Regions from separate parts of the Homo sapiens genome. Here all the other regions are linked to region 3. The links come from fine-mapping of genetic effects on gene expression. A gene starts in region 3. Each other region holds a variant in brackets. All regions are shown on one strand. Distances are between the middles of the regions.

Region 1 (8,107 bases), 120 kb after region 3:
GGAAAAGTCCTTCCATGCATGGAGTTTCCATTGGGGTGGTGGGGGCTGGTGGTGAAGACAAACAAAAACATGCACAAATAAATGTAAAGTATGCTCGAAAGTGATACAGAAAAAAAATGAACAAGGTGAGAGGGATGACAAGTTGGGGGGAGTTTGGAGGGCTTGCTTTTTAAGGCCAAGGTTGAGGTGACATTTGAGCAGTCTCTGAAGGAGGGAGGGAGGGAGCCATGGAGAGTTCTGAGGAAGAGCATCCAGGCAGAGGGGCAGCAAAGGCCAGGGATGGAAGCACGCTTGGTGTGTCCAGAGAATGGCACAGAGGGTCAGTGTGGCTGGAGCAGAATGAGGGAGGAGGAGAGGAGTTGGAGGGACGTCAAAGGTCGTGGGGAACCAGGTCTCTTAGGGTCTTGGGGGCTGGTGGAGGTCTTCTGCATTCACTGTGGAGTGGAGAGCCGCCTCTTGCTTCCTGTGACCAGGCATACATTGTTAAAGGATCAACCAGAATGTTGGATTGATAATAAAATGTAGTGGGCAAGAGTGGAAGGTGAAAGACTCCAGAGAGTATTATAATAATGGTGGCTCAGTTCAGAGCAGTAACAGGGGCAGGGTGAGGCGGTATCTGATTCCGGACATGGTTTGCCTTCTTGCAGGATTGACTGGACATGGTTTGAATTGGTGACAACACCCTGAAGGAGTGGATGTGGGTGAGAAAGAGCAATAGAAGACTCTGCAATTCCTGGCCTGAGCAGTTGTAGGAGAAGGTGAGGGGCGGGTGGAGTGAGCTTCATGGGAGACCGGGTGTCCTGTGTTGGAAGTGCTCATTTTGAGATGTGTCCTGGGTGTCCCAGTTGAGATCATGAGTAGGATGATAATAAGAGTGTGTGCATCTGGAGTTCAGGCTGCAGGTCAAGGCTGGAGATACCAAGGGGGGACTGGGAGGAAGACAGAAGCTTATATTGACAGCCATGAAGTGGAGGGGATTCCCCACAGGAGCAAGCGTAAGCAGAGAGAGGACTAAGAGCCCAGCCCAGGCTCTGCGAGGAGCCAGCAGAGGAGGCTCGGAGGAGCAGCCATCGAGGCGGGAGGAGGATCAGGAGAGGTGGCCTGAAAGTTGGGCACCAGGGAGGCGGGAGTGAGCAGTGGGTTGCAGGCTGTGGATGCATCAGGCGACTCCAAGGCCATTAGTGACATGGACAGGAAGAGTTGTGGTGCTGGTAGGAACAAAATTCTGATTGTAATGGGTCCAAAAGAGGATGGAAGGGGAAGGATTGGAAGCAAAGCAGATTGATAACTCTTTTTAGTTTTGCTACAGAAAGGTGAAGTAGTATAGTAGTTCATAGGGAAAATGGGAATAAGATTTTTTTTTTACTGGTTAGAAATAAAACGAAAGTATAATAATAAAAAAAGAAAAAAGCTTGTTTTTATGCTAATGAAATGGTTTCCTGTTTACCTGAATGTATTGGCTTTACAGAGTCTTTTTTCTATTCATATTAACTGATCTGAATCCATTTCTTGCACTCCTTCATTACATGAGCATACCTTCCCTCCTATCAGTAGAGCCGGTCATTATTCCTATAGGAAACACAACGAGATGCTCTCAAGTCCAGTTTAGTTCAGCTATTCCTTGGGCACTTATAAATCATTTCATATGCTCAAGAAAGAAGTTTGTCACATTACTTTGGTCATTATAATGTTTGATTGTTTTATTCTATCATGAAGCTATGAAGGCTATTTTGTATGCAGTATTATTGAATTTGTTGCCTAGTTTGCAGGGCAGTGAGATATATTGTGGATTTATTCTTCTGGGAACAGATAAGATCCCTCCTTCTGAATCTTCTGCCCCAGAAATATTTTTCCCCCTTCATAGCTAAGTGACTCAGGTGAGTTAGTTTGTGGTTGAAAACATGTTCCTTGATTCCAAGTTTGCTGTTTGCTTCATCTCATCTACTTAATACACAGTGAGTGCTAGCCTTTTACCTGTGCTATTTGAAGGTCAAGGCTTTGACCTTGGCAGCATGTGGGGACCCTCTGTGAGCTGATGTATGTGAAATTTTGCTTGTTCCAGGTTGGAGGCCTGCCATGTTACTGGACACCCCTCGAGCTGGTTGGAATTAGTTTTAATCATCTGCAGTCTCTACACATGATTTTAACTCAGAAGGGCTCCTTAACACACATCACAGACCATTTTACACCATGTTTATTGCAGCAAGAGTCTGGGGCTAACCAGATGACACACTCGTCTTCTGAAACAAAATCGTGCCTTAGGACGGAACCATCTTAGTTGCTTGCAGGGATGCGGTGCTGTTGTCTCCTGGCCAGAGGTTTCCCTGGGCAGGGCTGGGCTGAGGAGGGCCTCCAATCGGTGGGTCTGGACCTGCTCAGACTCCTCAGGGCTGGTTTCTCTTTGTCCCAGAGGAGGTGGTCAGGGACAGTGAAGAGCTGTGGCTGAGCCAATTAAATGGCCCCCAGCTGTCCAGGGCCCTGATGTGGGAGAAACGCTTATTTCCCCATTAAAGGGGAAAAAGGGCATCTTTGAAGCAACCAGGATTTTATGAATGTACTTAAAAATTATCCTCTTTTATACAGAAGCCATCTTGAAAGGGCTCTCACTGGCCAAATATGGTATATTTCAGGAGAGGAGATAAAATATAAATCTTGGGAAATAAGAATCCATGATTTCATACTTATAATAAATAGATAAAGCAGTGGAGAAGCAAATGTGGAAGGAGGAGGGCTCTTGCTTTCAGTAGAACACTGACTATTAACTGCTAAATGTGGAGAAGGTGCTGAGTTGGAAACTCATAATTTTGTAACTATCACAGTAAAGATTGGTCTGATAAAAGTCATCAGTAGATGCAAAATCCATGGGAAAGTTTTGATGAGGATATTTGCATGGTCTTCAAATGCCTCTCATAAGTGTACAGTGGGTAAATATGACAGCACCTTGACTGAAACTTCCTTGTTAAAGTTAACATCACCAAGGAGACCGATGGTCATGGTGCCCTCCACATGTGATACACCTTCCTTTCTGCAGTATTCTGGCAAGGAAGGCATGACTTGAATCTAGTTATGAGGAAGCACCAGAAAAACCCCCAATGAGGAACATTCTATTGAAGCAAGGGACTGTG[T/A]TCTTCCAAAATGCTGAAGTTGTGAAAGACAGGAAGGCTGAGGAATAGCTCCACATTAGAGGAGACCAGGGAGGTGGGACAGCTAATTAACCACACCTGAATCAGATCCTGTACTGGAGGGAGAAGTGCTTTAGTGCATATTATCGGGTCAATTGACAGTTTGAAAATGGACAGAAGTTTAGATAAAAGAGTTGTATCAGTGATAAACTTACTGGAATTGATGAGTGTGCTGTGGTCATGTTAGGGAATTCCTTTATTCCTGGGAAATAAGCATTGAAGTATTTAAGGGTGAGGGGCAATGATGCTTGCTACCTACTCTAGAACAGTTCAGGAAAAATGGTATAGATAGATGGATGGATGAGTGGTGGACAGATAGGTAGGTAGGTAGGTAGATAGAGTAGATATGATTGATAGATGGATAGATAGGATAGTTGGATGAATGCATAGATAGATGATAGAGAGAGATAATAGATAGAGATAGAAATGATATAGATAGATAAACAGAATGCTAACAAAAATGAGTACAATATTGACAATAGGTGAATCAGGGTAAAGTGTTTATGGGAGTTCCTTGTACGATTGTTGTAATTTTTCTACAAGTTTGAAATTACTTCCCTGCAAAAAATAGAATAAATAAATCAGGCCCCCTTTTTATTGACTGATTGATGCCTTCTTTCAGGATTGATTGGGCATTGGTCCATCTCAGGCCCCATCTTTCATGCTGTGAGCCACACAGACAAGCTCCTGATTCTCATGAAGCTTCCATTCTAGGGGGAGGTGTCAGAATTAAGGAATAAACAAAGAACAATTAGAAAGCATCTGATTTTGATCAGTGTTACGGAAAAAGGGAATGAGGAATAGGTCGTGATGGGGGTCGATGGGAGGCGTCCTTTGGATCAGGAGCCATGGGAAAAGGAATTTGATTGAGGGAAGGAGTCATTCCTATAACCAGCCAAGGAAGAACATTCCAGGCAGAGGGACCAGCCGCTGCAAAGGCACCCAAGCCGGAGGGAGACGGAGGTGCTTGAGGAACACAGAAGGACATTGCAGCTGGGGATTAGGGAGAGAAGGAGAAGAATTGGAGCGTCTTGCAGGGCTGGACCATCTAAGGTCTTGTCTGCCATGGTAAGGAGTTTAGATTTTATTCTAAGTAGCAGAGGGAGTCCATGGAAGGTTGGAAGAATGAAGTGACATTAATGAATTCATGTCTCCATATATCACTCTGATTATTGTGTGGAGCTTGAATTGTAGTGGGACACTGAGCAGGAACAGAAGCCAGTGGGCCACCGCTGTGGCCTCTCTGGGGACACAGCCACCCCCTCAACAGGGAGCAAGGCAGCTCCCTGAGCCCCCTTGCCTTGTTTCCCCTCGCCAGCCCTCACCCTCATGGGGTTGATGTCTTTAGGAGTATAGCATGATTCCGGCACACCATCTTTTTTTATTTCTTTTATATCAACACATGTCTTTAGTGAAGTCACTCAATGCCTTTCAGCAACTCTAAAAATTTACCAGGTTTCTTTTTCCAACATTACTTTGACACATGCCAAGAATGACAAAAATGCATCTCTCTTCAACTGACTTCTTTCTGCTGTTGAGCTGCCTTCAGTCTTGAGCACTGGGGAAGAATAAATAGAAACCCAGAATGGGACTGAGGAGACCCAGTTCCACAGGGAGAAAACCACCTTGAGGTTTCAGAAGGGTATTTGGGGGTTCCCAGCGCTCCCTAAAATAGGAGAGGTGGCAAGAGGACCTTGGTCCCATGAACACTCCAGCACTACATGGGATACTCTGAGGACACAGAGGCTGTGGCTTTTCTTGCCTGTTGGTGGGTTCTCTTCTCTGCCTCTATCCTGTGCTACCAGCCACCCTCATTGAGAATTTGGAATTCTTAAGTCTAGGGAGCCAGGACAATTTAGGGAGGATGCTCTAAATAGCTTTCTGGTTTTGTCTCCTCCCAGGGTCAGATGAACTGAGGTTTTTCTTTAGCAGGCTAAAGGGGCTGTGTCTGGGTTCTTGTGGCTAATAGAGGGCTGTTTTGTTGTGGGATCATCCTGCCAGAAACTGGGAGGGCCAGGGAAGTGTCCTTCAAAGCTGTGAGTGATTCTTTAAAGAGGGGCAGTGGTTGTAAACCCTTCACACTTCAAGCCATGTGGCTGTCTGTCTGTTTATCTGTCATCTGTCTGAGGAGTGAGGGGATGTGTAGTGGGACAGTGGGTGTCCCTGGAAAGAAATTTATCCCTGACATCAGTAGTTGTGGTCAGACATTCAGTTGGTTATGAAGAGTGGTACCCTTTTATCTTCCCCCCTGGACTTAATATTTATCTGCCCTAATGCATCTGTTCATTACAACCAGGGTGCTCAAACTAGGGGCTGAGAAACAGATTCTGGTGGGAGCTTCAGTGGCCCCAGCAGATGCAGGAGTCTTAGGGGGAAGTGACAGATTTGGCCTGTTGCAAAGAGCGGTGTGGGAAGAGAAGGGAATTGTTTCACCAAAGCGGTTTGTGGTATCAGTAATAATCAGAGAACTAGGGAGAAACGAAATTTTTTAAAAGAATACATTTTTGTGTGGGAATTTGTATTTCGTTGAGCAAACAATATGTTACTGGTGAGTCCAGTCTTGCTAGTGTGTGTGTGTGTGTGTGAGTGTGTGTGTGTGTGAGAGTGTGTGTGTGTGTGTGCAGTATAACTGATTATTTTACTGCCCTGGGGATTAGGTGAGTTGATGACTGAACACGGTAATTCTGAAAAATGGAGGGGAAGGAGCGACATTAGTATAACGATTGCATATTCTGTTGCCTAGCCTCAGTGCCAGTAAATTGTCCTCCACCACACATGACTTGGTCTTTGATTTTTGAATGTAGCCATAAGGTTCTTAAGCTGGAATAATGTGTGAGGTCAAACTGCCTGTTTCCATTTATGGTGAAAGAAGACAAGAAAAGACATGGTTGTGCATCCTGTGAGTATACTAAAAAAGGGTGGAATTGTACATTTTCAATGGTTAAAATGTATGACAGGTGCATTATATCAGAAGAAAAGCTGTTAAAAAAAAAAAAAGACAGCAAAGAGAAATAGACAAGTGTGACTATGAAGAAATCAAATTGTAAAAGTCACACAGGAAACAAAACATGTAAATGGGTGGTCGTTGTCTCCGTGAGTATGGTCCGTTTATCCTAATGACTTGTTATTGGCCAAAGGTCCTGAGAGCCAGACTGTGGGAATAGCTTTCAGAGCCTGGGATGTATTCCCTTCAGTATTCTCAGTGCAGTCAAATGTTGTCCTTGGAGAGTGGCTTGATTTTTGGAGATAGCTAAAATAATTCAAAAGTGGGTTTGGTAATTAAATAAAATGATCAAACTGAGAAATATCAACACAGTAAAAAAAATAAAGAGTGCTATGAAGCATACAAAAGTATATGAAGTATATCAACACAGTAAAAAAAAAGAATTCTGTAATGTAAGGCAACAGACTTAATTTTTTTCTGAGCTCTCATATATTGATTCCATAAGTGATCATCTTTTTCACTGGTAAAGTTGGCTAGTTTTCAAACACCAAGATTCAGTGCCAACATCAATGTGACTGTCTTACAATTTGTGAACTACCAGTGAAGTTCATTGTCTTAGGTGGGTTCCTAAAGAAGGCAACCCAAGTCAAGCCAATTAAGGGAATTTCAGCAAGCAGGTGATTGCTGTGGGCAGCTGGGACTCATTGCAATTTGGCACCTCTGGGAGCCTCTGTAGGACACGCCTCAGAGCTCTGTAAGCCAGGAAACATGGACGCTGGGGGGCTCATCTGCTGATTCCCACCTGCCATTCGCTGAGCCCTGCTTCTAGGGGTGTTTGTTGGCACTGCTGGCTTGACCCATCCTGCATGTGGGCTGAATGTCCCCTCCCAGCCAGAAACTAAGCATACAGACACAGGGTTAGCATGTCAGTGGTGAACAGCCTCTGCTGTGCCATATGCAGGAGATAGGCACAGAGCACTGCAGCACCTGGTACTTTAGTCTGAATCAGAACTTTCTTTGATGATGGACATATTCTCCCTCTGCACTGTGCAGTAATATAGCTTGAAATAGGACTGGAATATGACTGAAGAACTAAATTTTTAATATTATTTAATTTTAGTTTAATTTTAAATAGCTACATACGGTTATTGGCTACCATCATGGATAGTGAAAGTCTAAATAGAATATTAGAAAATGAATCCCTCAAAGTCTCATAGTCTCAAAGTTAGGAATTAAGAGGGCTAGAATGAAATGAGTGGTGTCCACGGATATATATCCACTGCCCCTTAAATCTTGTCTTTTCTACTTTAGCTGGATGGGTTTCCAGCTTCTCTTAGCCCACAGATAGGACTTTGTGTGCTCAGCTGAAGATAATTGCTAATTAATGAAATTCAACAGTTTTTTCGAGGACCACTGTAGGAAATTGCTGTGGCCCTGCATCCTAGCTCTGCACACAGAGAACAGTAATTGCTGGAGCCTTCAGTGATAAGGAATTCATTCCTGTAGGACTGCCCAAGTGCTTGACTTAGCCCAGATAAAGGCTGCTCAGGTAAATATTGTTGCAAGGGGGTTACTGGAATTATGCCTCCAGCTCAATGCCCATATTTGAAGATAGTAATGGTTAGGCAATTTTGCCTAGTCCTTTCCAGATTCAGTGTATTGACCAGCTCTTGACTTTTAAGGTGAAATAATTGAAGCTGGCAATCAGATCACTGGGTCAAGGGTATTCAGAAGATTATTCACACCTGTTTCTGAAAAGCATCCTGCATGATCAACAATTCATTTTAAATTGAGTTAGCATCAATTAACTTGTATTGAAAATGGGTAATGATGATGTAGAACATACATGACCAGTGTGTGGGATATTTGACTCATTTCATGCCATCTTTCTCCCTTATTTTGCCCAAGACAGACATTGCTAATCAATCACAGTGCCCTTTCATGTGGACCCACCATATAGCCCCTGGGTCTTTCTTAACAC
Region 2 (8,107 bases), 48 kb after region 3:
CAGCTCCATAGAGACAGAAAGCAGTTTCATGGTTGCCTGGGGCTGGTCAAGAGGGTAACAGGGAGTGGCTGCTAATGGATGCAAAGTGTCTTTTTGGGGTGATGAAAATATTCTAAAATTAGATGATGGTGATGGTTACACAACTCTGTAAATATATGAAAAACCATTTAATTGTACACGTTACATGGGTGAATTTTTATGGTACTGGCTGGGTGCAGTGGCTCACGCTTGTAATTCCGGCACTTTGGGAGGCCGAGGTGGGCAGATCACTTGAGGCCAGGAGTTTAACACCAGCCTGGGCAACATGGTGAAACCCCATCTTTACAAAAAATACAAAAATTAGCCGGGCATGGTGGCATACGCTTGTAGTCCCAGCTACTTAGGCGGCTGAGGCATGAGAATCACTTGAACCCAGGAAGTAGAGGTTGCAGTGAGCTGAGATCATGCCACTGCACTCCAGCCTGGGTAACAGAGCAAGACGTTGTCTCAAAAAAAAAAAAAAAAAAAAGAGAATTTTATGATACTTAAGCTATGTATTGATAAAGCTGATAAAATAGTTTTTATAATTATTACATGTTGAAATGTTAATATTTTGGATATATCAGGTTAGGTAGAATATATTATTGAAATTAATGTCACCTGTTTGGTTTTACTTTTTAATATGTCTGCTAGAAAATCTGGAATTCATGGCTCGCATTAGATTTCTGTTGGACTGCTGCACCGAACCCTCTCTAAGGACCTTCCTAGTTCCAAAATTATATTCTTCCACAAAACGATCCCTAGGTTTGGACTTCTGATGACTCATCTGGTATCATGGCTATGACCCAACTTGAAAAAAGTTCATTTGGGTCTTTTTGAAAACCATTTGCAAAAATAGGTTTTTAAAGAGAAATCCTGAAAGGAGGCACAGAGTCACATAAGGCGAGCCCAGGAGCTGGGACCATCACTTTCTCCTGCCTCCGTAAGCAGCCTGGAGCCATCTACAGCTGTGGATGGGGCTGTTTCAAAAAATCTATAGTCTAAGCCTGAACAGCGGTTTCCTTAATCGATCCTCCTCTCAGACGGTTGACTCCGCTGAGACTGGCCCTGCTGGGCATCAGGCCCAGGAGAATGGGCAGTAAATTCCCAGCTGGCGTCAGCCAAGAACAGGTGCTTGGGTTTCTCATATCTTTATGGTCTGGGGGGAGACCAGGGAGGTGCCTTTGAATCCCCAAAAGGCTCAATGTCAAAACACAAATCTCGGCCTCCAGTTGTACCTCCAAGGAGGGCTCAGGATGATGTTGGGAAGCATCTTTTTACCTTAGTTCTCCTGCAGGAATTAATTAAGAATGCCTGTTATGTTTCCTACCTTTTTCTGGGTGCTGGAGGGAAATTCAGAAGTCTCACTTATATCTCTTTTCAGAGCAGCTTGACTCCTGCAAGAACCAGAGTGTGTTCATGTCCATAAAAACCAAATCCAACCAAACACCCTCCAAACTCCTGGATATGGTGTGTATTTCCATTGGGAGCTTGAGTCTTTCCTGTTTACTCCTTCTACTGCTTCTTTTGATTTTTATATTTTTAGAGATAGGGTTTCCCTCTGTTGTCCAGGCTAAAATGCAGTGGGGAGATCATAGCTCACAGCAGTCTCAAACTCCTGCACGTAAGCCGTCCTCTCATCTCAGTCTCCTGAGTAGCTGGAACTACAGGCACACGCATCACTGTGCCCAGCTCACCTGCTTCTTAAAGGCTGGTAAGAGTCTGAGCCCTGGGGCTGTGAGCCTTTATCAACCTCTGTTTTCTGCAGCACCTGCACTCAGGTAGTTTCCTGTTTGGAATGCCGTTCCTAAACTGGCTTACCTCCCTTTTCACCTGTTTTCATGTAAACAGCTGATAGAAGCACCGCCATCCTGGGGAGGCCCAGCTGCAAGCTCCTGGAGGCGGGCACCTTTGCTGCCTCTGCCCTCACAGCTCTTCTTCCCACCCCATGAGCTCTTCTTCCCCATTCCAGGCTTTGGGCAAAGGCAAGGGGAAGAGAGCTTTTGGTAAAAGCCACTCTGAACATTTTTCCAGAAAACTGGGCAAAAGCAAACTTCTTTGGGTACTGGGCATCTTTTTAGATGATAATTAGAAATACAGAGGAATAGTAATAAACTATAATGATGGTGGGGTGCCGTGGCTCACGCCTGTAATCCTAGCACTTTGGGAGGCTGAGGTGGGCGGATCACGAGGTCAGCAGTTCGAGACCAGCCTCACCAATATGGTGAAACCCTGTCTCTAATAAAAATACAAAATTAGCTGGTTGTGGTGCACGTGCCCATAATCCCGGCTACTCGGGAGGCTGAGGCGGAAGAATCACTTGAATCCAGGAGGCGGAAGTTGCAGTGAGCTGAGATCGCGCCACTGCACTCCAGCCTGGGTGACAGAGTGAGACTCTGTCTCCAAATAAAAGAAAGAAACTATAATGATGAGGCAGATATAAAAGTGAACATTTTCCTGTGGCTTTTCCACCAAGCACTGGCTTTTCAGAGAACTCCAGAGAACAAGCAGCAGACAGGCAGCTTGTGCAGGGTCGATCAAGCACAAGATAAGGCCAGTGTCTTCAGGAATCAGAGTGGTTTGTGAGACACTTAAGCAAATTGCATTCAGGCCCTATCTCCTTCTGGCAATAATTCACCAGAGAAATGAGCCATTTCACTAGAAGATTTCCATTTTAATATTAGCACAGGGACAAGCCTTGTTTCACAATTAAATTAGAGCCAGGTAAGTTTTCTAGTAATAGTGATATCTCGAGGAAGGATTGAAAATAGAGCTGCTCAGAGATAATTTGCTTCTGAGCCAAGTTATTTCATGGATCTCCCAGGAGGACATCTTGCTGGTATGGCTTTGCTACTGAGGGGAAGCCCTCCAAGCCCCTCTGATGAAAAGATAAGTCACACTGCAGGTCTAAGAGGAAATGAAACGAGTGTGCAGCTTGAGAGACAGCGAGGTGCTGGGACACTCTGACTCCACCGTACAGATGTCTCAGGAGCAAAGGACCCAGCATGCAGGAGCTTTCCTTCTGGAATGGGCTGCTTCCGTCCGCCTGACACCTCTAGGATGTTGTCTTGTCAACAGTAGATGTTTGTCATATGCTTGGCCATGTGTTGGCACCATGTCACTCTGCTGGTGACAGTTCAGGACCAGAGGCCTTTAATCATAGTAGAAACAGTCTCAGAAGTGGAGCACTGCTGAGTGGCAGCGACACCTGAAGATTGGCGACCAGGCAAGGTGATGTGACCACAGTGGCCACATGGCAGCCAGTCATGGCCACCCCTGGAGGGGTTCATGGAACACATCGAGCTTGACCGCAGCCCTTGCTGTTGCATTGATCTTTCTTCTTATCACCCTCAGATACTACAAGAGGGTGTTATCAATATTAATGTACCACTGAGATATTGGAAACATTGTTTCTCCCCCAACATTATATATGAAAATGTTCAACCATACAGAAACATCAAAACAATTAGACGGTGAACATTCAGATACCCACCACCAGGATTTCACCATTAACATTTCACTCTATTTATAGTTTTTTCCCCCTGTGCTATGGGAAAATCTCTTTTTAATGTTTCTATCATGTTTTCCTTTTAACAAAGTAGGTCTCTCCCTCCCATGTCTCAGATGGAAACATTGAGGGGAAGATCATGCCAAATACATAGCATGTTAGTGAAGCCAAAGAAAAAGAATCCGTATGCCCTGAGATTAAGGTAGCAAAATATTAAGGGAAGGTCTCTGGAGTGGGATCTGGAAGGTGGATACCAGGCCCAGCTCTGCTGCTGCACAGCCTGTGAACCTGAGGTGATCAACTTCATCATTGTTATTTTTTCTTTTTCTCTTTTTTCCCATTATATTCAAGATCACCTCTATTCTGCCAGGATGGTCCTAAGGCTGACATTGGGCTAATTGTTGCCTGCAGTCTAGTCCTATGCAGAGATAACAGGTAGCCTGCGACCTTTGGCAAGTTGCTGGACTCGATTCTGAGCTATTGATTTCTTCTTTTGGAAGTGAGGATAACAACACCCAGCTCTCAAAGCTGTTGTAAGGTTAAGTAAGGTGTTGAGATGCAAAAAGAAAGTACTCAAAACCATGCCCGGAATGAGGTCAGCATACTCAGCATGGCAAATATTATGACTCCTAGTACACATATTCCCTTGCCAGTGTCCAGCACATAATCTCCCTGAGGGTAAGGTAAGCACTGCTGAAGTTAGAGCTGTGTTGTATTTAGAAATAATAATAGTAGCAAGAGCAGCAGTTATTGTAAAGTAAAACTGAACTGAAAATGAAAGAACTCGAGATACAATTTCTCAGTTCACAACATGTGCATCCTCTGCATGAATTTGTGAAAAGAACTGCTGCACTTGTCTCTATAGAAGAGCGTGTTTGGTTTACTGCTTCCCAAAAAAGATTGAGGCTATGAGACTGCTGTCCTCCTCTGCCACCCTTTGCAGAAGGCCTGCGAGGCATCATTGCTGTAGGCATCATTCTCAGTATGAGATGTGGTTACTGGAGCTCTGCCTTCCCAAGTTAGGT[A/G]ACCCCCTCCGGCATGGACCGACACGCTCCTCTTACTCAGTGACTTCCTGTTTATCATCTGGCGGTAGACAGCCTGTCATTGGAGAGGATGGGATCAGGTCGAGTCACAGATTCAATGTGTTTCTAATGGGAAACCGAATCAGGGTTGCCTTGGAAGCAGGACATGGCAATGAAGACTTTCTATAGCCCCTCAGAAGCCCCAGCCCCTCCTCATGAGGCTCAACCCTTGCTTCAAGCTGCCTTGCAAATCAGACACCACCTTTCACAGTGCCTTTTCTGGCTTCACTGAACCTCTCTGAGGCAAGGAATCCCCTTGGAAAGATGGGAATTTATTCCAGAGACTCCTCGTTCTGGTCTGTCCTCCCTCTCTACTGCAGTTTAGAGCTGAGAGGTGCTAGAGCTGACTGACAGGCTGTCCTGATGGAGACATGATGTGAGGTAATGGACAATGGACCCCCAAGAAGGGGGATGGGGACTTTGTGGTGAGCATTCATTGTCCCAGTTTTATATTTTACTTTACTTTTAGAGACAAGGTCTCACTCTCTTCCAGGCTGGAGTGCAGTGGTGTGGCATGATCACAGCTCACTGCAGCCTCGAACTCCTGGGCTCAAGTGGCTCCCACCTCAGCCTCATGAGTAGCTGGGACTACAGGTGTGCATCACCACATTCAGCTATTTTTTTTTAATGATTTTTTTTTTGTAAAGATGGTGTTTTGCTGTATTGCCCAGGCTGGTCTTGAACTCCTGGCCTCACGCGATCCTTCCACCTCAGCCTCCCAGAGTGCTGGAATTACAGACGTGAGGCATTGTGCCCAGCCTTACTGCCCTTCACAAAAATATCTGTGTCCAAGCTTGCTCATATATGGAACAGTCCACACCTGTGTAGCGCCAGCTTCCAGGAAGAAGTTTATGCATTCGTAAGGCCACGTAGGTCCGAAAGTTGCAGAGCAGTAACTTAAACCAAAGTCTGGTGTTTCTCATGACAATGCTTATATCTTCTTAACAAAAGGCTTAATCTGACATATAAGTCATGAGGCTTCACACTGTCAAAAATAGAAAACAATGCAAAATGCTTGATGTATTGGAGATTTATCAGCAGCTGTTTCTGCAGGGAGTGTGGGTGTCAAGGCAGGTAGGATCAATGGGACAGTGATGTCATCAAGGACCCAGTGTTGTTTTCTCCTTTCCCTCCCTTCCTTATGTTAGCATCATTCCCAAAGAAGCTTCCTCCATGGTGGCAAAATGGCTGCAGCAGTTGCAAGCATCGCCTCTATACACAGAAAGAGAGAGAGGCCGGGCGCGGTGGCTCACGCCTGTAATCCCAGCACTTTGGGAGGCCGAGGCGGGCGGATCACGAGGTCAGGAGATCGAGACCATCCTGGCTAACACAGTGAAACCCCGTCTCTACTAAAAAACACAAAAAAATTAGCCGGGCGTGGTGGCGGGCGCCTGTAGTCCCAGCTACGCGGGAGGCTGAGGCAGGAGAATGGCGTGAACCCGGGAGGCGGAGCTTGCAGTGAGCCGAGATCGCGCCACTGCACTCCAGCCTGGGCGACAGAGCGAGACTCCGTCTCAAAAAAAAAAAAAAAAAAAAAAGAAAGAGAGAGAAATAGGACATCAGTAGCTCTCTCTGATAAAGAGGGCTTTATTCTCAGAAGCCACCAGCAAACCTCCCCTACCATCTCATTGGCAGGAATGGGGCCACTTACCTCTCCCTGAACCAGTCCCTTTGGTCAAGGAGATGCCATATGCTGATTCCCCCAATTGTGCTACAATGATGATGGCCCATCCCTGGAACTAAGGTAAAGTCAGGCCACCCCTTCTCCCCTTTCTCCATAACTTTCTGCTGCTACTCAATGGGGACTGGTGGAAGGGATCTTGAGAAAAAGACAATGTGTGTGGTATCTATGATGGGGACATTTACTAATCCCACCCACTTTACACTAACTACTGCTCTTGCTCTTACGATTATTTCTGAATGTAATACAGCTCTAACTTCAGCAGTGTCTACCCTCTGTGAGATTGTGTGCTGGGCACTGACAAAGCTGCGTGTGTCCTTATAGTCACAATATTTGCCCCGAGCCATTTGCCCTTTCACCACCCACTCATCCTGCTGCCATGGAGTGACCGTATGGGATTCCAGAAGAGACAGACACGCCCCTTTGTTCCTAGAATCCCTCGCTCCATCACCCACTCCAGCCTTTGTGTGTGTGTGTGTGTGTGTGTGTGTGTGTGTGTGTGTTTTCTGTTGACCCCCCCACGTTTGTTCCTGTTTCTTTCACTTTTAGAAACAATGGAAAAGGATTTTCTTTCTGGCTTCCCATCAGATGACTTGCTGACCTTGGCTGGTAGTGGCTGCAATGAGCAGGGTAGCTCACAGCATTGAGAAGGGAACAGTCTCATGTGGCTTTGGAGAGAGAATGTGGGCTGGAGAGAAGGAAGCAGAAAGCCACGCAAAGAGCAAACTGTGAAGAATGAGACAGAAGCCCTCAGCTAGGGGCACACAGCCAAACCTACATGCTGAATATTGCTTGTTTTCAAGGGGGGACGTTATTGGAAGTCTGCACTTAGATACCAGTGCTCCTTGTCAGGAGTCTGAAAAATAAAAAAAGCCTGATTATTTAGGCAAATGCCTAATCAATTAGAAATATAGGGGTTCACTAGGGATGAGAGTGAGAGAGGCGTTGCTCTCTGGCTGAAATATGCAAAGCAAGCCTCCCCGTTTCTCAGGCGCAGGTGGTGGCCAGGAAAGTCCTGCTTGCATCAACCCCTCCTGGTCTGACTGAGCCACATCCTCTCTCCTTTCCCTGCCTTCCCTTACCTATCAGTGGATCTCAGACTCTGGGCTGAAACTGAGAGGGCATGGATCTATCTTTCTTTCCATTCAACCTTGCTATTCTCCTATTGCTGGTTTCAGTTCCAACTTGGAAAGTTGCAAGCAATGGGCCAAAGAATAGGAAAAAGTGAGAAGAATAAAGTGGCTTTGTGTTTAAACGAAAGCTTCACTGCCTATCCTCCCCTCAGTTCTGTCTTTCTCACTGTGAGGCATCAAGAGGATATTTTAGTTCTGGTGTCAAGTTCCAATGGTGAAAGGAGAAGAGAGAAACATTATCAGAAAATCTATGGGCCAGGGGCGGTGATGGCTCAGACTTGTAATCCCAGCGACTTGGGAGGTTAAGACAGGAGTTCGAGACTAGCCTGGGCAACATAGTGAAATCCCATCTCTAAAAAAAAAAAAAATGCTTACTGTGGTGGTGCACGTCTGTAGTTCTAGCTAGCTAATTTCCACCACTACACTCCAGCCTGAGTGACAAAGCAAGACCCTGTCAAAAAAAAAAAAAAAAAATTATCCACTTCTATGGCTCTGGACCAAACACATCTTCCCACTTGTTTTAAGAGACATTGTTTCCAAGATGAGGTCAAGGTTACCTTCAGGGCTGACATCACTTGGTGTCCCTCAAGACAGACCCTCGGCTCTCCTCTGGTGCCAGCCTCAGGTGCCATGGGCAGTTCAGTGTAAGCTCAGACTCTCATTGCAATACAGCATTGCCCCAAGC
Region 3 (8,107 bases):
CTTACTAACAAGCTCCCACATACTTTTTCTGCCCAGCAGAAAGGAATTTGATTGACAGGATCCTCCATGAGTTTGTCATGGCCTGGGTGTGACTCTTTCCTGATGGAACCTATTCTACTTTCCTCTCATTTAGAGAAAAAGGAAATGGGTTGTACTGACTTTTGCCATTAAAAGCTGCCTCAAGGTCTAACGCACATTGCAGGAATTTTTCTGTGCTTGTCTTTGACAGCTTGGCCCCCTGAAGTTTCCCAGTGGACCTGTTGTCCTGCAGTTTCCCTTGGGCTCCTCCTTATGTAGTGTAGCTGGTTTGAGAAGCAGCTGATGACTGTTTCAATTTCAACTGAAGTTCCTTACAAAACTAGCCAATCTGGGAGGTCATTTGTCTCTGATCCAGATGTAGTGGTTTGATTATTCTTGGCTTATACTAAAGTTGGAAGGGAACTGAAGCATCAGGTGAAAACCACCTACACCTTCACAGTGTGAAAAAGAACAAATCACAGCTATGCACACCACAATGGACAGACATCACAAAAACGAAGATGGGCAAAAGGAGCCTCCCTTTATCTGAGGTTCAAGGACAGGCAACAATGATCTAGGGTACAGGGTTGGGAAGAGGCACTATCTCTGGGGAATTATTGCCTGGTGAGGGGCTGGCACAGGGAGACTTTCAGGGAGAGCAGGAAATGTTCCATGTCTTGGTCTGGAACCTGTGAGGATGTATACGTATATACAGAGTCATTGAGTTAATGCTTAAGCTGTGTGCGTTTTGCCTCATGTATGTTATACTTCAACACATTTTCTTTTTTTTTTTTTTTTCTTCTGAGACAGAGTCTCGCTCTGCCACCCAGGCTGGAGTGCAGTGTCGTGATCTCGGCTCACTGCAACCTCCACCTTCCGGGTTCAAGAGAGTCTCCTGCCTTAGCCTCCTGAGTAGCTGGGATTACAGGCATGCGCCACCCTGCCTGGCTAATTTTTGTATTTTTAGTAGAGACGGAGTTTCACCATGTTGGCCAGGTTGGCCTCGAACTTCTGACCTCAGATGATCCACCTGCTTCAGCCTCCTAAAGTGTTGGGATTACAGGCGTGAGCCACCGTGCCCAGCCAACAAATTTTTTTTAAAGGCAATTGTGAATCTGACCATGGTCAACTAGGAAAAAAAAATCTATAGTCATATTCATGTGGTGAGTTAAAAACCAAACAAATGCACACAGTTCAGCAAAAAGAATATTCAAAATTAAAAACTCTTATAAAATAAGCAGTCTATTTGAACTCCAGTCATAAACTGATCACCAAAAATAACGTGAGCCCACCTTGCAGACACAATGCTCTCAAAAGAGTAATTTTTTTTTTTTTGTCCTTCAAAATACAGCCGGCTCAGAAAGTGTCTGAAGAAGCAGTTTTCCTGGCTTTTTGATAAAGACGGTGGACAAGAATGGGCGTGAGAAGAAATAGTTGTTAGGTCTTCCTTAGTAAGGATGGGCTTTTGTCCAAGTCTATGTGACTGTGCAGGTGCAGGGGTTTTGTCTGGAGGTGATCAGTGCTATCAGTCTAATGTCTTCCTGGGCTACATTTGAGTGAGGCAATGACAGGAAGCCTGGCCCTTCAAGTCCTAGGCAAGAAGGGGATGCTGCATACAAGGCCTGTTCTAGGCATACTCCATGAATTTCTCCCTTTTATCCCCCATCTACTAACATTTGGTCTCACTGTGCTTAAAGGTTTTCCATGAACACCCAGGGGTCTTTCCCCTCTGAGCTTGGGCCAGGTCTCCTTGTGTTATGAAACAGCCATGGTGAGAAAGCTGATGTCTCTTTACCAAGAAAGTGCCTTTTCTGGTTTTCTCTTCCTCTCTCCTCCTCTCTTCTAAATCAATGGCTTGCCTGCCACACCTGGGAATGTTTGGTGTTGTGGAGACATAACCTTGCTTTGTCCTGGAAACTACTCCATGAGGTCTGTGAGCTGTGGTCAGCAGGAGGCTGGAGAGCTGGAAATATCACAGGAGGGCACCGAGCTGCACCTAGTTTGGCCACAGACGAGGTCCCTTTCACTGGCTGGTGGATGATCTGGCCTGGGCTGAGAGTTAGTGAATATAGTCACGGGAGGCTTTCTATTCTTTGTCCTAAAGGTAGAACTGTGAGAAAGACTAACCAACTTTATTCACCACATCAGGTCCAAAGTCTCTGCAGGGACCTGAAAACAGAATGTTTATGGAAGGTCAAAACAGGGGGAGTAGACAGTGACCCCAGAACCCAGCCCAAGGTGGGGAGGTGCTCTGTAAAGACACCTGTCTTATTCCTGAAAGGGTGAAGACCCCCACACATCTAGGAGTGATGCCTCTCTCTCCAGGAAAGAAATACTCTCAGACTGAAGTATCAGAGCACATTCTTCATTTCAACTCTTGCTCCTTTCACAGTTCGGTTTCTGGAGGGAGCTTCCAAAGACTGAAAGGGACAGGTAGGAAAAAAAATGACTGTTTTCTTTGGAGAGGAGCTCCTGAGGCCTGTCTCACTTGGCCATCACCTGGGGGGCTGAGGAACCTATCAGGTCTCAGTTGCTGTCAGCCTAGGGACCAGGATCCCCACCTTTCTTCCCTAGGTGGTGCCTGGCCGCCCAAGGAATCACTCTCTGTGCTTTACTTTAACAGTGCCCTTCACTCCAAAATCTGTCAAAATGAATAGAAACCCAAGAATCATTTCTGTGTGCCACAGGAGTGCTCTCCCCCGGCCCCCCCGCCCCACCCCGCCACACACACACACATACACTCCTGGTGCTGAGATAATTTCCAAGAAATTACCAGTTCCTGGTTATTCTCCTTCCTCCTGGCTCCCTTCCTAACTCCCCCTCCATCACCAGATTACACAATTCCTTGAGCCTATGGTATTTTCCCCTGGAGCTTGTGTTCATTTCCTAACTCAATTAATTCCAGATTCCCTCTCTCACCTTCTATTTTCCCTCGTTTTCACTAGAAAACACTATTTGAGTGACTTTCCTGGTTAGTTGAATTCTTCTCAGCTCCTAAACTTTCTTTTCTGTGTCTGCAAAAGCTTGATGGAGATAACACAACTAGAGAATTCTCCCCACACACTCCAGCACGGATGAACTCGTATTTTTACACCCTCCTTAGTATCTGCAGCCAAAGCAAAGGGAAAACCACTCAGGCATTGTGGGGGAGGTACTCTGAGTGTCTGGAAGATGCCAGGCTGAGAACAGCAGTCATAAATGATATACCCACAAAGGAAAAGTCTCTGGTCTCCCTGGGTGAGATGGCCTTTCTCTGGAAAGGAGGCCACCTATAACCACTTCCTTTGCCCTTTGCTGTGACCTTGCTGTCCCCGGGCGCTGTCAGGGATTGTCTGGGAGGAGGTCGGGGGGGGTAGGTCAGTCACAGGTGGGGACACATTTGAACAGACCTAGACAGGGGAGCCTTATACAGAGGTTCTCTGCTTCCTTCCCACCTCCTTAGGGTATGAAGCTAGATTCCCTGATCTGAATGGATTCCATGGAGACAGTCACCTAGACAGACACCTGGTTTCAGGTGATCCCTTTCTGGACAAGGTCTTTTGTTTTCAGCGCCCCCCCACCCTCCGCCCCAACAATGGCATCTCCTCCTCAGCCCAGCCAGCAGCCCCAGGCTAGCATCTGGGAAGAGTCCAGGGAAGCCCAATGAGGGAGAGTGGGCTGTGTCTGGGATGGCCAGGGATCCCCTCCAAATGGGCACCTGCGGCAGGTCGTGAGTCCAGCCATCTCTAGGGCAGCCCACACCTTCAGCAAGGAGGGGCAGGAGACCTAGAATGGGGGAAATGGGAGGACTAAGATTCTAACGTTGGAGGTAGGGCAGGCTGGTGTTACCTGCACAAGGCCAGAAGCCTCTTCAGGCCGCCTCTCCAGGGACCGTGCCAGCTGTCCCCACTTCGATCAGCCACAGTATTGGACTTGGTCCAGCACGAACAGAAAGCGAAGTGTGAGCCCAAGACAGAGGGGGGAGCCGGACACCCTTATGGAACTAACAGCCTCTGGGGAGGCCTGTTCCAGATCCCGAGTCGGGCGCACAGGGGGATCCCCGCAAGGGGGCAGAGGGAAACCCGGGAGGCCCGCGAGAAGAGGCGAGGCCAGAGGCTGGGCGCGGGCAGCCAAGCGCACTCGCGGCGCCCCGACTCCAGGTAGCACGTAGAGAGGAGGCTGAAGAGCCCCTCGGTTTTCCGAAAGTTTCCAGCGAATCCTTCTTGGTGAAGATCGGCCTCTGGGAGGCAGCGTGTGTGCTTCCCGAGAGGGGGCCCCCTGCGCCGTCCCTCTTCCCCTGGCACAGAAGGGTTGAAGGACTGCACACAGGGATCCCTCCCCAGCCCAGTCTCCTCCCAGCGCGCCCCCTCCCCGCCATGCCGGCCAGCGCCGGGCTGTGTCCCAGGCACTGCCCCCCGCCAACCCTGGCCCGACCAGCCTCGCCGCTGCAGGCTGCCGGGAGCTGCGCTAGCTCATGCTCCCAGCTCGCTCGGTGCTCCCTGTTCGCTCCGGCCCGGCCCCGGCCCCCATCGCGCCGACCATGGAATAGGCGGGCGGCCCCGCGAGGCGCTCCTGCAGCCGGCGAGGCCAGAGCCAGTCCGGGGTGGCTTTGCCAACCGGCGGAGTTGGCCAGCGGCGGGCCCTCCTACCGTCGGTCCTTCCCCGCTCCTCCTCCTCTGCCCCCTCCGCCCCCGCCTCCCGGCCGCCCCCGCCGCCCCCGCCGCGCCGCCGCCCCAGGCCGAGCGCGGGCGCGGAGCGTGGGAGCCATGGCGCGCGAGGAGGAGCGGGACCCCGAGCGCCGGGAGGCGGCGGCGCGGGCGAGCGGCGAGGAGGAGGAGGAGGGAGGGGAGGAGGGACTGGGCGATAGCGACGAGGAGGGCGACGACGAGGAGACGGGCAGCGGCGAGGAGGAGGAAGAGGAGGCGGAGGCGGCGGCCGGGTGGGAGCGCAGCGAGGACGCGCGGCTGCTGCGCGCAGGGCTGCCTCCTGCCGCTGTCCCCGCCGCGGCCGCCCGCGACAGGAGCGGCCGCCGCCCGCCGAGGCCGCCGCCCGGCCGCCCGAGGATGCGGCCGTCCGGCGACGAGGACCGCGCGCGTCGCCGCCGCCGCCGCCGCCGCCGGAGGGACCTTCTGCTGAGCCAGCTCTGCTTCCTGGCCTCGGTGGCGCTGCTGCTCTGGTCGCTGTCGAGCCTGCGAGAGCAGAAGGGTGAGTGCACGCTGCCTGCCCCGAGTGGGCGCTGCGGCTCCGGCGGCTCGGGGCTCCCGGGGCTGGGCGCGGGGCTCCTTCGGGCGGCCCGGCCGGAGCCCCAGGATAAGCGGGCTGGGTTGGCGGGGGGAGTGGGATGCCAGGCACGAGGACTCCCCCTGCCCCACGCAGAGGCATGGAGGTGGGGACCCTGAGCGCCAGCAGCCAGCAGGCTTAGGCGTCTGGCCGCCCTGGGAACATTTACCTGTGCCCGCCTGTGCGCTGCTTACTCGCGAGCTGGAGGTACTGCTGGTGGCGGTGGTGGGGAGTCTTACTCTCCATCAGCCCCCAAGGCCAGGGATAAAGTTGTGGTGGTAGACCCGGCACCTGTGCAGGTGACCACCTGTATACTCCTTGGCTTGCTGAAGGATTCAAGGGGACTGCTTAACACACAGTTGTCCGTATGTTCTCCATCCAGAGAGCAGGCGGGATGGCCCGAGTAGAGAGCTCTTCAACCCCCTTTCAGAACAGGTGCCGGGAACTTCAGGGAGAGAAAAAGTGTTGGCCCTCCAGCTATGGGCTAGTAGGGGACTTGTTCTCCTAAAATGACCACTCACTGGGAAGACAGGGAATTCTTCCTCAGAGGTCCCTTTTGCAGAGCTGCTGCTGTGGAAGAAATGGTTTGCAGTGGACCACGCATCACACTGTCCGCTCCTCTACCGGTGCTCTGCGCAAAGTCTGCCCTTTAACCCACAACTTTTGTCTTGTCTTTGTCCTTGGCCTTTCTTGAGCTGAAATAGATCTTGTGTGCTCCCAACAGTTGTCTGCTGAAACAGCTTCGATCCTGGGATTCAGCTGTCTATAAAATGAAGGAAAAACATGGGAGAATAACTGTTGTAAAATGGTTTTATATCCCGGCCGTGGAAGTGGCACGATTAGTGGGAAAACAGCCATGTAAAGGGTTGTGAGAAAGAAACAAAACAAAACAAAACAAACAAACAAAAAAACAGTTACAAGTATGTGCTGTGGTGTTGAGGTCGACGTAGCTCTAATGCAAGATGTCATGAGGTGCAGAATAAAGACATTTTGATAGTCACCGTAAAATATTTTCAAAGGTGCCATGAATTTAAAAAGGGATCTCCCCCAGCTTGGCTGGTCTCCTGCTTGGTGGGGAAGTGAAACAGGCGTCAGTCTTCATTCAGTCTTAGCAGACCGCTTGACAGACTTCATCATTTATGGTAATAGCAGAGAGTCCGTCTTGGTCTTCAGTGAAGCTGTTCAAGACTCCACGGCTCTCTCCATTGCTCTCCTGGATCTCAGATCCCGTAGCCTTGGGTTCTGACATCAGGAAGGGGGCCGTGCCGGTGTGAGGGAAGCAGAATCTCTCCCAGGGCAGATTCACATCTGCCAGACTTCTGTCTACTGACAGTCTCACTAAGGGGGTTTTCCCGAATCCCATTTTTATTTTCCTTTTTTATTTTTCTCCAGTGAAAAACCAGTTTATAGTTCATGCCACCTTTGGAAAGGGCTATTCCTAGTGGATTACACGCTGGCCATTTTTTTCTGGTATGTTGGGGCTCTATGAGACATAGAGTTCCCACCACTTTCAAGAATATAAAAGACATTTTTTTCTGGGTGAAGGATGTGACTCATATAGTTAAGTCAATCAGTGACAGGGGGCTGCCTGGGCCCTGAAAAGCTGGGATTTGGGAGGAGAGGAGGCCAGACACTCTGCAAACTTGAAACCTGGGGACTGGAATGTCATTTTGGAATGGTTTCCCTGGTAGTGACATTTCTATTCAGGTGCCACTGACTCAGATTTAGTTCCATAGCACGGCCTTTTCCGCATCCCTCCCTCTGTCCTACCTTTCTCCTTCCTACCTTTCATATTCTTTTTTCCTCTCACTTCCTCTTCCTCCCTTCTCATCTCTGTTGGTCTTAGGACCCCTCCACACCCCAGTAACTGAAGATCTAACAGGCAAAAGCCAAATGTTAAGGAGGATGCCAGCCAGCCTCCCTGTGTTGCCCCCGAATGACATATGAGTTGAAATGGTCTCCAATCACTTTTTTTTCCGTTAGGTATTGATGATTTTGGTATGTGATGCACAGTAGTATTTTGCAGCAAGACACAGGTTTTTCTAGATAATTTTTAACATATTAATTAATGTGTGTGAATCTGCAAATGATAATTTTGCAAGGGGAATTGTCGTTTGGCACACGTAAGCATTTGAATGGTGACTTTTACCCTGGAAACTTGGAGCACACACTACCTAGTGGTCCTTTGGTACAGATACTGAAGTTTGGAATGGAGCATTGTTTCGAAGACCTTGTGGTGTAGAGAGGCTGAGTGATTAGCTTAAAGTCACACAGCATTCGAAGAGTAGAGGAAAAAACCAACCTGAGGTAACCTGGTTTTTTGTTCCCTACTCTGTCCTCATATTCAAACCACCATTTGGGTGTAGCTTTGTAATATTTATATAATCTCATAGGGGGTACCTTCATAATGATCAAAGGTAATATTTTCATTTAGTCACCTTGAAAGCCATGCAGTGATTGTTAAATGTAACTTCTCAGAAGCTCGTTTTCTAACACATATTGACCTTTCCCTCCCTCCTTCCTTCTGTTGGCCCTTCCTCCCTCTCTCCTTCCTTCATTCTTTCTTCCTTCCTGCTCCCTTCCTTTCTCTCTTCTTTCCTCTTAAAATGACAGTTCTTTTACCAAAGCAAAATAGAGATGTGTGATAATTATATTATATGATGTTTCATAACATTTCTAATCATATGGAATCCAAGATCCCTTTCTAGACATCTAACGAAACTCAGATTTGGCTATGTACTGAAAAGTTTTGGTTATATACTGAAAACATTTTCCACATATTCAGTATTTGGTTATATGCAGTAAGAATCTACATTGATTCTTTTCTGCT
Region 4 (8,107 bases), 130 kb after region 3:
GCTGTGAAGATTAAATTACAAAGGGACTAAAAGTGCTTTTCCTAGTACCTCATACATATTAACAGTCCACACATCGGCCGAGCGCAGTGGCTCACGCCTGTAATCCCAGCACTTTGGGAGGCTGAGGCGAGCGGATCACTTGAGGTCAGGAGTTCGAGACCAGCCTGACCAAAATGGAGAAACCTCGTCTTTACTAAAAATACAAAATTAGCCAGGTGTGGTGGCACATGTCTGTAATCCCAGCTACTCAGGAGGCTGAGACAGGAGAATCACTTGAACCTGGGAGGTGGAGGTTGCGGTGAGCTGAAATCACACCATTGCACTCCAGCCTGGGCAACAAGAGCGAAACTCCATCTCAAAATAAGTAAATAAATAAATAAATAAATTAATTAATTAATTAAATAAAAGTCCACACATGGTAGTTCTTCTTGAAGCAGCATGTTTTAGTAAATAAGATGATGGACTTGTTATGAGCTCAGAACAAGCTCATATTTGCCATGTGTCTTGGGGAAAGATTCTCCATTTATGCCTTGGGAACCCTATTGTTATCAGTTAGCTACAGCTGTATAACAAACTACGCTAAAACATGGTCGTTTCTAACGCTAAGCATTTACTATGGCTTATGAGTCCATAGGTCAGCTGGGCAGTTATGTTGCTCTGGGCCAGGATCAGCTGGTGGTTGCTGAGCTTGTTCATGCCTCTGTGATCATCTGGTGGTCAGCTTGGGGCTGGCTCGATTAGGATGGCCTCTCATGTCTTGTGGTTGGCTGGCTTTTGGCTGGCACTTGCCTCTCATCACTCAGTAGCCAGTTGAGACTTGTTCATAGGGTGGTGGCAGGGGTGGCACAGCATCACTTCCTTCAATTATCTTGCCCATATCAAGTCACAAAGATGGCCCATCTTCAGGGGATAGAGGCACCACAGGATGGGAGGAGAAAAATCCAATTGCAAAGGGCGTGGATACAGGGATGAATGGAGAACTGGGAAGAAAAAAATGTTGTAATTATCTATCACATTGGCCCCTTCACCAAGATGGTAAAAAATATACTGTTTTCCTTTAATAGAAAGAAGCTATTAAATAAAGCTTTTCATTAGGAAGTTTCGCATGGCAAAGTCAAGCTCTCCCCTGCCCTGTCACTCTTGCTCTGGCTTTGGTCAGCAGAGCCTCTGACATGGCAGGAGGTTAATTTGGGTCCTGCCTCCCAGGGTTTGTCTCTTGTGTGACAGGGTCAGCAAACCTTGGGGCCTGTTGGCTGGTTGCATATCGGATTTCTTCCTCTGACATTCTCACAAGTTCCACAGCCCTTGGATTGGTTTATGAAGGAGCCCTCATGTCCTCCACTTCTCAGACGTGTGGAACTCCCTGAGGCTGTGTCTGCAGATTGCCACTGAGACCACTTGAGAAGTGAGAATCGTGTCTGCTCAGTGCATTGTCTTGGCCTCTGGGATCAAGGCCTCCTGTCCAACCTGCCCATATGATCACAATGCCTGTTCTATTTCAGCCAGTTGTTTGGATGAACTGTTGAGATGTATGAGGCATTTAAGAGCTTGGCTCTGGAGTCAAATGCAATGTGGAAATCTGGCTCCTTTACATGCAGATGTGACCTTGGGCAAGATGCTGACCTCAAGGGACTTCAGGTTTTACATCAATAGAATAGGAGTAATAACAGTGCTTATGATATGGGGCTGCGAAAATTGCATGGGCTTGAGAAGCACCTTACCTGTGTGTGTGGAATAAGCCCTCACTCAATGATAGAGGTTATTAGCACGATTATTTTTATGACTCTGACCCCACCATATATGACGAGTTTCACCTCTTCAAAGGAGTCTCTATTACCTTTTTTTAAGGCTGGGAAGGCTTAGTTTTAGCACATCCATGGGTTGTCACAGAGATGTCATTTTTGATTCACACAGGGATGTTCCACATTTTGAATGGGATAGCTGGTCCTCAGCAAAGGGACACTGCCAAGATTCGGAAGAGCTGTGAACTTGCTGAGTCGTGGAGAAGCATTCTTGGACACATAGCCTGACTCTGTTTGTAATTAATTTGAATGCTTCCAGAGCTTCCTTTTATACCCTCCCTGTTGTAATTCCATGGGGAGTTCATCGGGCCGAAGCTGCAGTTCAGATCATTGCGTTCAGTGCTCATTCTTACCATCTGGGCTTCATTTGAGTGGAGGGCAGTTATTTTTTAGGTATCTAGTTTTTTTTTTCCCCTTGTGCAGCATCTGTGGGTGTTTGTACCGCAGAAGGAAGCATGTAAATAAATGCACTTGATGAAGAATCAGTAAGAATATTAATTCCTAAGCTATCACTCAGTCTATATAACCATTTGTAAAAGAGAAAAATGTCATTTCACTTATTTAGCTGTTCAAGAATTCTAATATTTCTCATTTTATAAGGAAAAGTAGAAGAAACAGGTTAGGAAGACTAAACCCAAAGTATGACAGTGCTAGAAGAAACAGAAATTGTTAAGTAAATGCTGGAGTTGCATTTCACATTGCCTCCCACATGGTGTTTTAGAGAGATACCACCCCGATCTACCTGCTGGGGAAAAGTGTGTCCTTAACCCAAAGCTTCCAAGTTTGCCAAGACTTGGGGGCTGAGGGCCAGAAACCAACCAGGAGATAGGGTACCAGGGTAACCTGGAGACAACCCTCATCAGATGCATGTGGACACCTCTCCAAGCCAGTAACATTTTACTAAGCATGTTTGATAAATTAGGCTTAACCAACAGCACATTGGGTAGAGAGAAGAAGGGAGGAAGGCAGAGGAATTCTAGAAGGAAAATGAGTGAGTTCCATATAATCTGCAAAAGAATTCCTTCTGGCAGTTTATGAAACGAGATGTTTGATGAAAGTAACATTCTAACCAGGACCCTGCACCTTGGCAGCCTGTCTTCTGTCTCTGGGACTTGGGGCATGTGGGGGATCCAAGGGGTGGGCTCAGGTGTTCAGGTTTGGGATGGTGTTGTGGATTGAATTGTGTCCCTTAAAAGAAGATATGTTGGCGTCTTAGTCCTAACCCCCAGTAACTCACAATGTGACCTTATTTAGAGATAAGGTTTTTACAGAGGTAATTAAGTTAAAATGAGTTTATTAGTATCGTACTAATTCAGCATGCCAGGTGTCCTGATAAAAAGGGGACATATGAACACAGACATGCACACAGGGAGCACTCCATGTGAAGATAAAGGCAGTTG[C/T]TGGGAGGCTGTGCCTGCAAGATGAGGAAAACCAAAGCTTAGCAGCAAACCATCAGAAGCTGGAGAGAGGCATGAAACAAATTCTCCCTAACAACCTCAGAAGGAACCAGCTTTGCTGACACCTTGATCTAGGACTTCTAGCCTCCAGAACTGTCAGAGAATACGTTTCCATGGTTTAAGCCAATCAGTCTGTGGTAGTTTTTGACAGCATCCCTAGCAAACGAATACAGATGGTGTCGTGATAAAAGGCGTGGATCTTCTCACTGCATCACCCCACTTTCCTGTTTCCACCATCCCCACAGCCTGGGCAGGGAGGAAGAGTGGGGTGAAGAGAGGCCATTGACAAAATTTGGGGATCAGGCATTCCCAGGTCCTCCAACATGAGGTTGGGAACCGCTTGGCAACTTAGATTCCTGTGTTTCAAATAAACATCCAGAAATAACATGATGAGCTCAGATTTCTGCCTCTTATCTTGTCATCTAGTTTTTCTGTTTATAACAAAAATGGTAATATGAAAAGTACAGTTGTATGATGTGATTTGTTGAGGGAGCGACACAGTTGCACAGGGTAATTTGTGTGCAGATCACATGTTATCCCCACCACGATGGAATGAAGGAGGTCTCATTGGGCCCCTTTTGTGAAGCAGCTGACTTGTACAGGAGGCAGTGACTTGTACACAGTGAATGATAGAACCACAGTTCAAGTTCAGGACTCTTGATTTGCTTGCATGTAAGCTCTTCCCTCCTACCTGTAGGATGAGTGCACCAAGGTCTGGCTGGGATGGCCCAGAGAGTTCTGAAAATACAGATGCCTGAACCATCCCCAGAGGGGCTGAACTAATTGGTCTGGGATGTGGTCTGGGTAGCGGGAGTTTTTGAGTCTTCCAGGTGGATACCCACCACAGTAGGCAAACCAGCAAAGCATTTTAGGTTGACAGCAGCCTGGAGAGGTTAGCTTATTCAGAAGTTCTCAGGGGCTTGTGACAATCCCCGGGAAAGCCATTCCTAAAATACAGATTCCTGGGACCTGCCCAGACATAACAGATCAGAATTTCCAGGAGTGGAGTCCAGGAATCTGTATTTTACAAAAGGCCCAGAGGTCATCTGAGGATCACGTAGGTTTGGGAACTGGACCTAGTCCATCCACTGTGCCTGTGGGGTGTGTTCTGGAGGGATTCTAGGCAGTAAAGCACTCTGTTGTTTTCACTTAAAGCCTGCGCTGTAACACCTTACCAGAAACAAGGTCATCTGCTTACTTCACAGATTCCAGGGGTAAATATAGTGTCACACTAGGAAGGACTCAGGACTCAAGACAGAGTAAACACTTCTTCACTCAGCAACTGGGCACAGCTCCCAGCCACCCAGGAACGCTAATTTGGCATTAAACAGAGACTTGCAGAAGTCCCCCAAATAGCAGCAGTTTCCCATCCTGTAGACCCACAGAATACAGCCTTTTTGATATCCTCTGTCTCAGTTCTTCATTCTGCAAATGAAGAAGTTGAAGCCAATGAAGGTATGACCATCTAATCTCTGTGACAGGCAGATCTTGGATGCCCTCTGCAATGGGCAGCTCCTAGTGCCAGCTGCTGTGTCCTTGTCATTGTCTCTGTGTGTTTCTGACCCTGGACTCATCTGGCTGCAATTCAGTGGCCACATTTGTAGATACAATACCTATTTTTGAAGTATTTTTGAAGAGTAAATGAGATAGCATTAAAAGCACTTTAATAGTTTATAAAATACTAGTTGTTGTTATTGTTGAAATGTCAGTTTGCATTAGATTGATATGGAAACTTAAGGTGGGGCACCAACTTTGATTTGTACCTGTAAGAATAGTCATGTAACAATATTGTTTGTGGATCTGGTTCCCTTTTGCCAGTCTTTAAAAAATTTCCTAATGCAATGCCCTATTCAGTGAGTTAAGCTAATTATCTATCTGTTCTCCTGGAGCTTAAAGCCAAGACAGAAAATACTGGCAGTGGCAAAGATGACTGGGCCATTGGCCAGAGTGGATCCATTGATAAATCCATTTTTATGTCTTGCCCAAGCACTGTGGGAAACTGGAACAGAACCATGGGACCTATACTCTGCCAGTGTTCCAAAAATCAGGTCCTAGGCATTCATCATGGCAAATTTCTGCTGAGTTGGCCATGTTAATCTTTGGACAGATCAGATGTTTAAGATCATATTCAATTATACAGCAATCATACATTGGAATATGGGAAACTCATTATAAATTAGGTTGTTGAATATTGAAAGACATGGGAATTTATTTATGACAACTGTTTTAGGTGCAAAAAGCAAGCTGCAACATGGAAATGTATGTACCAAATGTTAAGAAGGAGTTTCTAGTGGAAGAAGGAGTGTCTTTTTATTTTCATCTTTGTATCTCTTGGCATTTTTTAAAGAAATGCCAATTCTTCCAGATGAAGGTGGCTTGACGGAAGAGATAACGTCGAAGGTGGGTCTTTGATAGATGTATAAGAGTTTGAAAAGGCAGAAGCGCCGGGCACGGTGGCCCACGCCTGTAATCCTAGCACTTTGGGAGGCTGAGGCAGGAGGATCACGAGGTGAGGAGATTGAGACCATCCTGGCTAACATGGTGAAACCCCGTCTCTACTAAAATACAAAATAGTTAGCTGGGCGTGGTGGCAGGTGCCTGTAGTCCCAGCTACTCGGGAGGCTGAGGCAGGAGAATGGTGTGAACCCAGGAGGCGGAGCTTGCAGTGAGCCGAGATCATGCCACTGCACTCCAGCCTGGGTGACAGAACGAGACTCCATCTCAAAAAAAAAAAAAAAGAAAAAAGAAAAAGAAAAAGAAAAGGCAGAAAAATCATCCAGAGGAATGAGAGTAGCATTTGTGGAGGCATGGAGTAGTGAAATCCCATAGTTTGTTCTGGAACTGGCTGGCTGTTCCAGCTGGACCACATTCAGATGGCTGACTGGTTATCAAGGCAATGTACCACTGAGACTGAGAGCAGTTTGTTTGACCCACACAACCTGAGTTTGAGTCTTGGCTTTACCATTTCAATTGTGTGACCTTGGGCAAGTCAGTTTACATCACCTACTCTATGTGTTTTCATGTGTAATATGTGGATAATAAAAGGACCAAGGTATGGGGGAAGGTTAAATGAATTAACACACGTGAAGCAATTAGACCCCTCACCTGGAGCATAGTGAGTGCTTCATAATTTAGTCTATCGTATCTCATCATTACGGCAGATATTGTTTTGCACCCAGTAGAAATGTACAGCCTTACTTCTCTGAGAGTTGAAGGAGAAAAAAAAAATGGTGAGTTGGAAGTAATACTTCATGGAGTACAGGGTCTCTGTGGGGCTGTTTGGAATTGTGCAGACAGAGGGAAGACAGGAGGGCATTGCCATGAGAGGGTGGCACCAAGTGAGAGCAATTCTTCTGAGCTCAAGATTTAAAGCCAGTTCTAGTTGGAGCAGAAAGAGGGACTGGAAAGTGTTAGGAAATAATGTTGGATGCATTCAATGAAGCCAGATTATAGAGGGCCTTATGGACCAGTTGGTAGGCGTCTCACTCATAAAAAGGAAAAGGGGACTAGGACATGATTTTTACAGGTGATATACGCCTGGTGGAAATGTTACAGCATAAAGGGCCTGGACTCGGACTTGTTTTCTAAAGCCATCGGGTGATATTTCCTGTGGACCTCACCTGTAGCCAGTAATGATCTGGAAATATTTCAGACCTTAGTAATAGACCCTGGTTTCTGCACCTAGAAAGAACCATGGTGGACTTTTCTTCTGAACATTGGTTTCTGACTTGGGGAAAGCAGATGAGTATCTGTGAACACCTCCTCCTTCAGTGAATAAAGAGAACAATGGTGGATGATGGAAAGAGCAGTGAACATGTTGCAGCCACAATAAAGTGTATTGCTAATTCATTTTTTAAAATGTGTTTGTCTTCTTACTTTCCTTGATTTTTTACTACCACATTATTTTTGAAGTTTAATAATATGGTTGAGATATATGACTAGCTGGGTTTCTAGTGGATATGATACTCTGTCTCTGAGCAGTACTTGCGAGCATTCTGAATCCTAGCCTTTTACACCTTTAGATAGAGTGAAACCATAACTACATATGTACATGGCTTGGTCTTGGGTTGGGGTTCCCAAAGAAAAGACTCTGAGACTAGCATTTAAATTCAGTAGTTTATTTAGGAGGTAGTTGCAAGAGGCACTGGTAGCAGAGTGGGAAGTGAGACAGGCAAGGGCAGGAAGCCAAAAAAGATGTGATAATAAGTAAGTCACTTCTGTGGACAATGGGGATTCAACCCACTCAGTGGCTTGGGAGGCGGGGAGGACTGGGACACTGCAGACAGTATACCACAGGCTTGTCTCCCAAAATAGGTGAGAATACTGTGGAGCATTTATTTACCAACTCCTGTCTGCTATTGGTTGACGTTTGCTTCTGGAGAAATTAACTCCCCAGCACTCCTGGCTTCTCCACATAATGGATGGAGCCTGGTCTGTGGCCAGAGAAAGCTCCCAGACAAGGAAGATTGAATGCCAAGGGAAAATGTGTAGAGCACCTACTACTCCACGTCACATGGAGGGCTTAACAGTGAAAGTAATGGTGAGAAACTAGATACTTTACCCCTAAGATCAGAAATAAGGCAAAAATGTCCGTTCTCATCATTCTTATTTGACATCATACTGGAAGCCCTAGACAATGTAGTGAGACCAGAAAAGCAAAGAAAAGACACACTGATTTGGAAGAAAGAAATAAACTGGTTTTGTTCACAGCTGACACGATTGCCTGTAGAACGTCTCAAAGAATTGATAAAAATCTCCAGGAACTAATAAGTAATTATAACAAGGTTGCAGGATACAAAGACACAGGAGTTGATTGCTTTCCTATATGCCAGGAATGGAGAATTAGAA

The links. PIP is the estimated chance that this variant, and not a neighbour inherited with it, causes the effect.
Region 1: its variant is fine-mapped to the expression of SLC24A3 in whole blood (GTEx, PIP 0.98).
Region 2: its variant is fine-mapped to the expression of SLC24A3 in fibroblasts (GTEx, PIP 0.94).
Region 4: its variant is fine-mapped to the expression of SLC24A3 in whole blood (TOPMed, PIP 0.98).

What each region holds. Positions count from the first base shown.
Region 1 is chr20:19,327,875-19,335,981 of GRCh38, forward strand. All of the region lies in intron 2 of SLC24A3 (solute carrier family 24 member 3), which reads left to right. Among named protein-coding and RNA genes, the nearest start is that of SLC24A3-AS1, 47 kb to the left of the region's middle. The variant T/A (reference allele first, on the strand shown) is at 3,126.
Region 2 is chr20:19,256,281-19,264,387 of GRCh38, forward strand. All of the region lies in intron 1 of SLC24A3 (solute carrier family 24 member 3), which reads left to right. It overlaps SLC24A3-AS1 (SLC24A3 antisense RNA 1), which reads right to left. Exons shown (of 8, transcript NR_024564.1): 4 at 7,798-7,873; 5 at 5,429-5,593; 6 at 1,349-1,415. Among named protein-coding and RNA genes, the nearest start is that of SLC24A3-AS1, 24 kb to the right of the region's middle. RefSeq lists enhancers at 2,932-3,021, 4,691-4,740. The variant A/G (reference allele first, on the strand shown) is at 4,552.
Region 3 is chr20:19,207,783-19,215,889 of GRCh38, forward strand. It overlaps SLC24A3 (solute carrier family 24 member 3), which reads left to right and starts at 4,860. Exons shown (of 17, transcript NM_020689.4): 1 at 4,860-5,202. The coding sequence starts at 5,061. LOC101929547 (a long non-coding RNA gene) reads right to left here and starts at 4,686. Exons shown (of 3, transcript XR_007067549.1): 1 at 3,847-4,686; 2 at 2,282-2,659; 3 at 1-2,187. RefSeq lists an enhancer at 1-225 and a silencer at 5,211-5,260.
Region 4 is chr20:19,337,088-19,345,194 of GRCh38, forward strand. All of the region lies in intron 2 of SLC24A3 (solute carrier family 24 member 3), which reads left to right. Among named protein-coding and RNA genes, the nearest start is that of SLC24A3-AS1, 57 kb to the left of the region's middle. The variant C/T (reference allele first, on the strand shown) is at 3,203.